Homo sapiens: one gene and its partner. The protein of the gene in region 1 purifies or fractionates together with the protein of each later gene. This does not show direct contact. Each region holds a gene or a part of one and is shown in the gene's direction. Other genes may lie near its edges.

Region 1 (3,388 bases):
TGTGCACCACCATGCCTGGCTAATTTTTATGTTTTTTAGTAGAAACGGGGTTTTGCCATGTTGGCCAGGCTGGTCTCAAACTCCTGACCTCAAGTGATCTGCCTGCCTTGGCCTCCCAAAGTGCTGGGATTACAGGTGTGAACCACCATGCCCAGCCTGATTCTGCATTTCTAAGAAGCTACCCGGTGATGCTTATGTTACTGCTCTATGAACCAACCACATGTTGAGCCTTGAGCTGTGAAGGAGCTATGGTTGGAAGGAACTTGGCATTGACACGGAGCTGAGTGAGGCCAGAGTGGTTGGAATGCAGAGTGACAGGGAGAGTGGCGGGAAGGGAGCAGGGCAACTCAGCCCCTAGGGACCTCCATGCAGTGCCCTGTAGGCCCAGATGTTCTGCCTGATCCCAGAAGCAAAGGATCTTAAGCCACATGATCAGATTTGTATTCCAAAAAAGTCAGTTTGAAAAGAGCATGGTGGGCTGGGTGTGGTGGCTCATGCCTGTAATCTCAGCGTTTTGGGAGGCCAAGGTGGGAGGATTGCTTGAGCCCAGGAGTTCAAGACCAGCTTGGGCAACATGGTGAAACCCCATCTCTACAAAAAATACAAAAGTTAGCCAGGCGTGGTGGCGTGCGCCTGTAGTCCCAGCTGCAGTGAAGGCTAAGGCAGGAGGATTGCTTGAGCCCTAGAGACAGAGGTTGTAGTGAGCCAAGATGGTGCTACTGCCTTCCAGCCTGCTTAATAGAGCAAGACTCTTTCTTAAAAGAAAAGAAAAGAGCATGGGGATGAGATTGGCAAGGAGCCAGAATGGCAGCTGGAATTCTAGTGGGTGTGAGGGCAGTTGTCCAGGGGAACATGGGAAGTGGCCTGGCCAAGAGTGTGGCAGAAGAAATGGGAGAAATAGATAGATTGGAGAAATATTTAGGAAAGTAAGAAGGACTTGCATGACTTGGGAAGTACAGGAAAGGGAGGTATCAAGAATAACCCCTGGGTTCCTGACTTTTATAATGGGGTGGTGGTGATGTCAAATGCAGAGATTGGGAAGGCTGGGGCGGGGTGAGGGATGTGTATGTAGGCACAGTCAAAAAGTTTATTTGGAGGCAGGCATGGTGGCTCACACCTGTAATCCCAGTGCTTTAGGAGGATGAGGAAGAAGGATCGCTTGAGGCTGGGAGTTCGAGACCAGGGGGACAACATAGTGAGACCTCCATCTCTACAAAAAATTAAAAAATTAGCCAGATGTGGTGGCACGTGCCTGTGGTCCCAGCTATTTGGGAGGCAGGAGGATCGATTGAGGAGTTCCAGGCTGCAGTGAGCTGTGATTGCACCACTGCATTCCAGCCTGGGTGACCGAGTGAGACCATGTCTCAAACAAAACAAAACAAAACAAAAACCATACAGTTGACTTGGACAGTAAGTTTGATTTATATGAGGTGCCAAGGTGGAGTCATTGGGTGGGCAATTGACAAGATGAGTGTAGACCTCAGAGGACAGATATTGGCTGGAAGTAGAAATTTAGGTGTTGCCAGCATAGAGATGAACTTTTTTTTTTTACTATTATTATGAAAAATTTCAAATATAAAGAAGAGAGAATGATATAATGAATAGCCAGTTTTGCCCATCTAGATTTAGAAATTTTTTTTTTTTCTATGTTGGTTTCATGTTCATTTTTTTAATAGTATTTGTAAATTGCAAGTATCCTGACATTTCCTGCCTAAATACTTCATGTGTATCAGCAGATTATTGAAACCATGAGAGAGGATGGTCTCCTTGGAAGAGAGAAAAGAGAGTGAAACAGAATGTAATCCTTCAGCCTCTTAAATATTTGTGCTGGTCCCTGCAATGGGGAATATATTGCTGATGGGAATCCATCTCTCTTGCTACTTTCATGGAAATAATAATGCCTGTCATTTACTGAGCACTTATTACCTGCTGGCATGGTCTCATTTAATCTTTCCACCAATGACTGAGGTTAGAATATTAAACCCATTTGACAGATGAGGAAACTGAGGCTCACTTGGGGTCTGGGACTTAATGAGTGCTTTTCACTTAAGTGCCAACTGAAGGAGTGAGGCTGGGAGAGTAGAAATAGCTTGCTCAAGGTGACACAGGTCAAAGTTATCAAACCTGTCATCCTCACTCCAAAGCCAGTGATCATCTTGAGGGCCCTCAGCATTTCAGAGCTGAGTTCCTGCTCCCTCTTGACCTCAGACTTGTCAGGGGAACATTTGTCCTGCCAAACTCATTTCTTTTCCATTTTTGATGTGTGTGTATGTGTGTGTGTGTGTGTGTGTGTGTGTGTGTGTGTGTATGCTTGTGTATGCACAGTTGGGCTTTGAGGTCACAGATAGATCACAGATTGTATTTTGGGATTGCCCCCCAACCCAAGTACGTACCAGAGTTCTAAAGAGCAGGGCTCCTCTGAGTGGGTGCTCCCACACCGCCACCTCTGGTCTCTCATGGCCTTCTGTGCTGCCTCCCACCAGGTGCACCCCAGACATGGATGTCATCCTCAACATTCCTGTGGAAGAGCCACTACCCTTCTAGATGGCAGTGCCATGGGCCGCCCTCCCCTCCTGCTCTCTTCCCAGCACCTGGAGCCTTGGATCATTTACTTCCAGGACCGGATCTCCATTCAGACCCTGATCTACAGTCTCCCTGCTCCCTCTGCCCTTCCTCCCTCTTTCTTTCCCTCCCTCCCTCCCTCCCTTCTTCCCCCCTTCCCTTCCCTCCTCCTTCCTTCCTCCTCTCCCTCCCTCCCTCCTTTCTTTCTTCCTGTGGTTTTTTCCTCTCTTCTTCCCTTCTTTCTGGTTGGTGCTGCTGGGCCAGGTGGGAATTTCTGATTAAATCTGCTATTCCTTTTTTACCAATAAAGCTGGATTTACATTTGCTTTTTTGCCAGTGTCTCGGGGTCCCCAGCTAGGTCTTGCAGAAGATGTGGTGGGAACGGACTTCGTCTTATGATAAGGGGCGGGCAACTGTGCTAACTGCATCTGGGGCTCAAAACTTCTCCAGAAGAAGTGCTGGAGCAACCCCCTGCCTGAGTCTCCATGGCTCAGTGGCTCTGGGCCACTCCCTCCTGGTGCAGTGGGAGCCCAGCTTCTCTCCAATCTGTGCCCAGACCTATTGAGGGCATTGTCGGGGCTGACAGGCTTATTGATTTTAATACCCCTGGAACTTGCTAGGCCTTCAGTGCTTGGAACAACTCAGAAGGGCTACTCTGGCTCCAGAACTTCCTGAAGGCTCAGCTGCAACTACCCTTGGGCCTGCACTGCAGCTGAACTTCTCCCTGTGCCCAATCCTGCATATTTCTGTCTTCCTCAGTTGTTGATTCCAAGAGCACTCATTACTCAACATTCTGCACCCTACACTCCATCTCAGAGTTGGCCTT
Region 2 (3,500 bases), on another chromosome or scaffold:
TTGTAAATGAAACGAGGAACAGAGAATCTGAGAGCTTTACTTTGTAGGGTGCCAAATGTGATTCTTTCTTACCTACATCTATTTGTCTTGGGATTTTTCTCTCTCTCTCTTCCTCAAGAGCCTTTTAGTCCTCCCCACACATTGCCTGCTTCTTTAGGGCTTGTTGCTCCTAATCTGAGGGGCCTCCAGGGTCAAAGAAGGTCCTCCCAGCATGGGGTCAGCACCTCTCTGAGTCCCACCACAGACTCCTGACTTCGTAACAGTGCTGTCTGTCTGCTGTAGCAAATCGTTAGAGCAGTCAGGAAGGATTCGGAGTCATGTTTGTGGAAGGAAGAGATTATTACAGTACCTGGAGGAAGGAGGAGGGGGGAAAGCCCAGATTTCAGTTCTTGCCCTTGAGCTGCAAATTCTCAAGGACTCTCCTCTAAATCTCCTGGAATCACTGTTAGAAATCCACATTCCAATGGAGAGCAGTGTAGGGTTATCAGATATATGAGGCCTTTCCTCCAACTCAGCTCTGACACTTTGAAAAAAAACTTCAGTATAAAACTGCAGAGTCAATCTCCATTTTAATAGTTTTGTTTTTCTTGTTTAGCACAAAAAAATTAGATCTCTCCAGCTGGCGAATCTAAAACTTCTCTTCCATATGTGCATAAGCACACACATCTGTATATGTTCACATGTACAGGCACACACTGTAGATGCCTCAGGACTGTAACCCCTCTCGAGTGGCCAGAAGTACCAGCCACGACCTACTTCAGAACCAACCGTGCCTTCTCTGAAGTTAGGCTGCTATAACTAAACAGCAGGTAGAGTTAGATGCTGCTTCCTTTGACACTCCCTGCCTTTAAAAGACTATGTCACCTCAAAGAATTTCTAAGGAGTTGTTTTCTTCTCTCCTTCCAGAGGGCCAGTTGAGAGTGGATGCCAATATATCCGTGCATCACCCTGGGGAGCCTTTGGGCGTTCGAACGGAAGTGAAGAATCTCAACAGCATCAGGTTCCTGGCCAAAGCCATAGGTGAATGCCAGCTGCCGCTCCTAGTGTCCTTCTTCCTATTGTTTCTCTCTTGCTGGGTAACAAACAACCCAGAAACTTAGTGGCTTACACAAGAACTACTTTCGTTTTCACTGGTCCGTTCTGTTGGTCCTGTGTCGGCTCACTCATGTGGCTGTGGGAAACCGGCAGGCCAGCTGAAGCAGAGGGTCCATGGTAGTCGCTCTCATACCTTGGGGCCTTGATGCTGATGTCTGCTGGGCTTCTCCATCCATGTGATCTTTCTTCATGCACTTGCCTAGCCTTGGCTTTCTTATGAGGCAGTGGGAGCATTTCGGGAGGATGAAGGCAGAAGTGAGTCCTAAGCTGTAGACCTCACACAGTGTCACTTCCAATGTGTTCTATTCAAAGTAGATTGAGGCCAGGCACAGTGCCTCATGCCTATAATCCCAGCACTTTGGGAAGCCAAGGTGGGTGGATTGCTTGAGGCCACGAGTTCAAGACCACCTGGGCAACATAGCAAGACCCCATCTCTATAAAAAATTAAAAATTTAGCCAGGCATGGTGGTGAGCACCTGTAGTCCCAGCTACTCAAGAGGCTGAGGTGGGAGGATCACTTGAGTCCAGGAGTTTGAGGTTGTAGTGAGCTGTGATCACGCCACTGCACTCTAGCCTGGGCGACAGAGCAAGACTCTGTCTCTAAGAAAAAAAAAGAAAATTACATTGAATTCAAAGCAGACTTGAGGGGAAATTAGACTCCACCTCTTTATCAGAGGATCCACAAAAGATCATGGCTGTGTTTTACCATTTACCACCTTCTTTCTGACCAGCTTGAGATTTACTAGGTCATGGTTGTTCATTTTAGATTGACCATGGCTTGACCTAAATGGTCATTATGTTTTCCTGCTTTTTATATTCTTTTTAACTGCTAGATTATGTGCCCATGCAGTGAAGTAGTAGTCTTTCTGGAGCACACACTGTGGGTATTTCTTTGATGATAAATGTATAATAACTAAAATAGTTTAGCAAGATAAATATCTGAGCAGTCCCGTAGATATAGGTAACTGTGAATTCAAGGGGAGGACCTCAGAGGACTAAAAAGATTTTTTAAAACCGAAGCTATCTAGAGAGGAAGAGGGAGGGATGGAGTTTGAAGTGCACCCCTTCAAGGGTGCACAGAGACCAAGACAACTGAATCTGTTGCCAAAGTTTTGCTGTAGCCAAAATGTTTAATAGAGCCCTGGTCTTGTCAAGAAAAGTATTAGAAACAGTACAGAAAAGATGATTCTAGTCTTGTATTAGACCTTATTGTCCTGAACCTGAAGTGAATCAACCACTCAATGAAGACAGTCTTCAGGAAAAAGGCATTAAAGTGGTCAAACGGATAGCTTATGGGAGCAGAGAGGGAAGGGATAGGCTCCTATATGAAGGCAGACTAAAGATGGTGAACTGTTCTGCATCCGGAAAGGGACATAGCCCATGTTCCCAAAGCCATGAAAGGTTTGAGTCAGGGAAAACCCTTATAAGCCAAGTTGGTGAGGAGGAAGCCTGGAACAAATGGAGGAAGTTCCACCTCCCCCTGTAGGTAGTGGGCTGGGACCCGTTATTTTAAGAGGTGGTGATGGTAACCTTAAAAAAGCAGCCCAATTTTAGGTAGAGTCATCCATGAGTTCTGAAGGAGACCCCTAACCTTCTCCTGTCCTATGAAGAACTCTTTGGAGGACCAGTCTGAGGGAGAAATCTCCCTGTGGTCTGACTCAGAGTGGAAGAGCCAAAGCTTTACTATGGGTTCAATTCTCCAAGCCTGTGATTTTTCACCACCTTTTTCTCCCTATGTCAGGCCATTTAGCCATCATCTCGTGTCAACCAAAGAGATCACTGGAGTTGGGGAGAGATGGGGAGCAAAAACTGACACGTTTTGCTGTTGCTGCCTCTTAGCAACTCAGATAAAAGGGTTTAGGTTTGGGCAAGGGAAGGTAGTACATGGTGGGAGGGAGAGTTAAGGTGGAGGCTCAAGATATTTTCATAAAGCAGTTTAGCAGGCTGGGCTTAGTGGCTCATGCCTGTAATCCCAGCACTTTGGGAGGCCAAGGCAGGAGGATTGTTTGAGACCAAGAGATTGAGACTAGGCTGGAAAACATAGTGAGACCCCCATCTCTCAAAAAAAGAAAAAAAAAGCAGCAACAGCTTAGCAATTGTGGTTGTGTTTTGATTCCCACAGCCTCCCTCATTTGATGCTGAGGCATGGGTCCTTGGATCTTAATCATTTGGGGTCGTGGGTCCCTCTGAAAAGATAATGTAAATGCTGGACCCTCTCTCCAAAACCTGCACATATGCACACAACCCACACTTTGTGTATAATTTTGGGGATACCAGAGCCTTTGAAGCCCATCCCAGACTCCCAGGGTAAGGGCCCTGGGTAGGCAGCAATCTCAGACCGAGATATTGGGCCCAGCCCCACTTCTGCCAAGTCATGTCATCTGCATGGGGTTGCTTAATCTCTC

Evidence for each region.
Region 2: the proteins of C20orf96 (region 1) and GATB purify together in Homo sapiens (affinity purification with mass spectrometry; one large-scale study listed by BioGRID and IntAct). This does not show direct contact.

The regions. Positions count from the first base shown.
Region 1 is NC_000020.11:270,363-273,750, reverse strand, and holds the end of C20orf96 (uncharacterized protein C20orf96), read left to right. Parts: intron 1-2,483; coding exon 2,484-2,544; 3' UTR 2,545-2,888; downstream 2,889-3,388.
Region 2 is NC_000004.12:151,705,508-151,709,007, reverse strand, and holds part of GATB (glutamyl-tRNA(Gln) amidotransferase subunit B, mitochondrial isoform 1 precursor), read left to right. Parts: intron 1-906; coding exon 907-1,020; intron 1,021-3,500. UniProt on the Homo sapiens protein: Allows the formation of correctly charged Gln-tRNA(Gln) through the transamidation of misacylated Glu-tRNA(Gln) in the mitochondria. The reaction takes place in the presence of glutamine and ATP through an activated gamma-phospho-Glu-tRNA(Gln).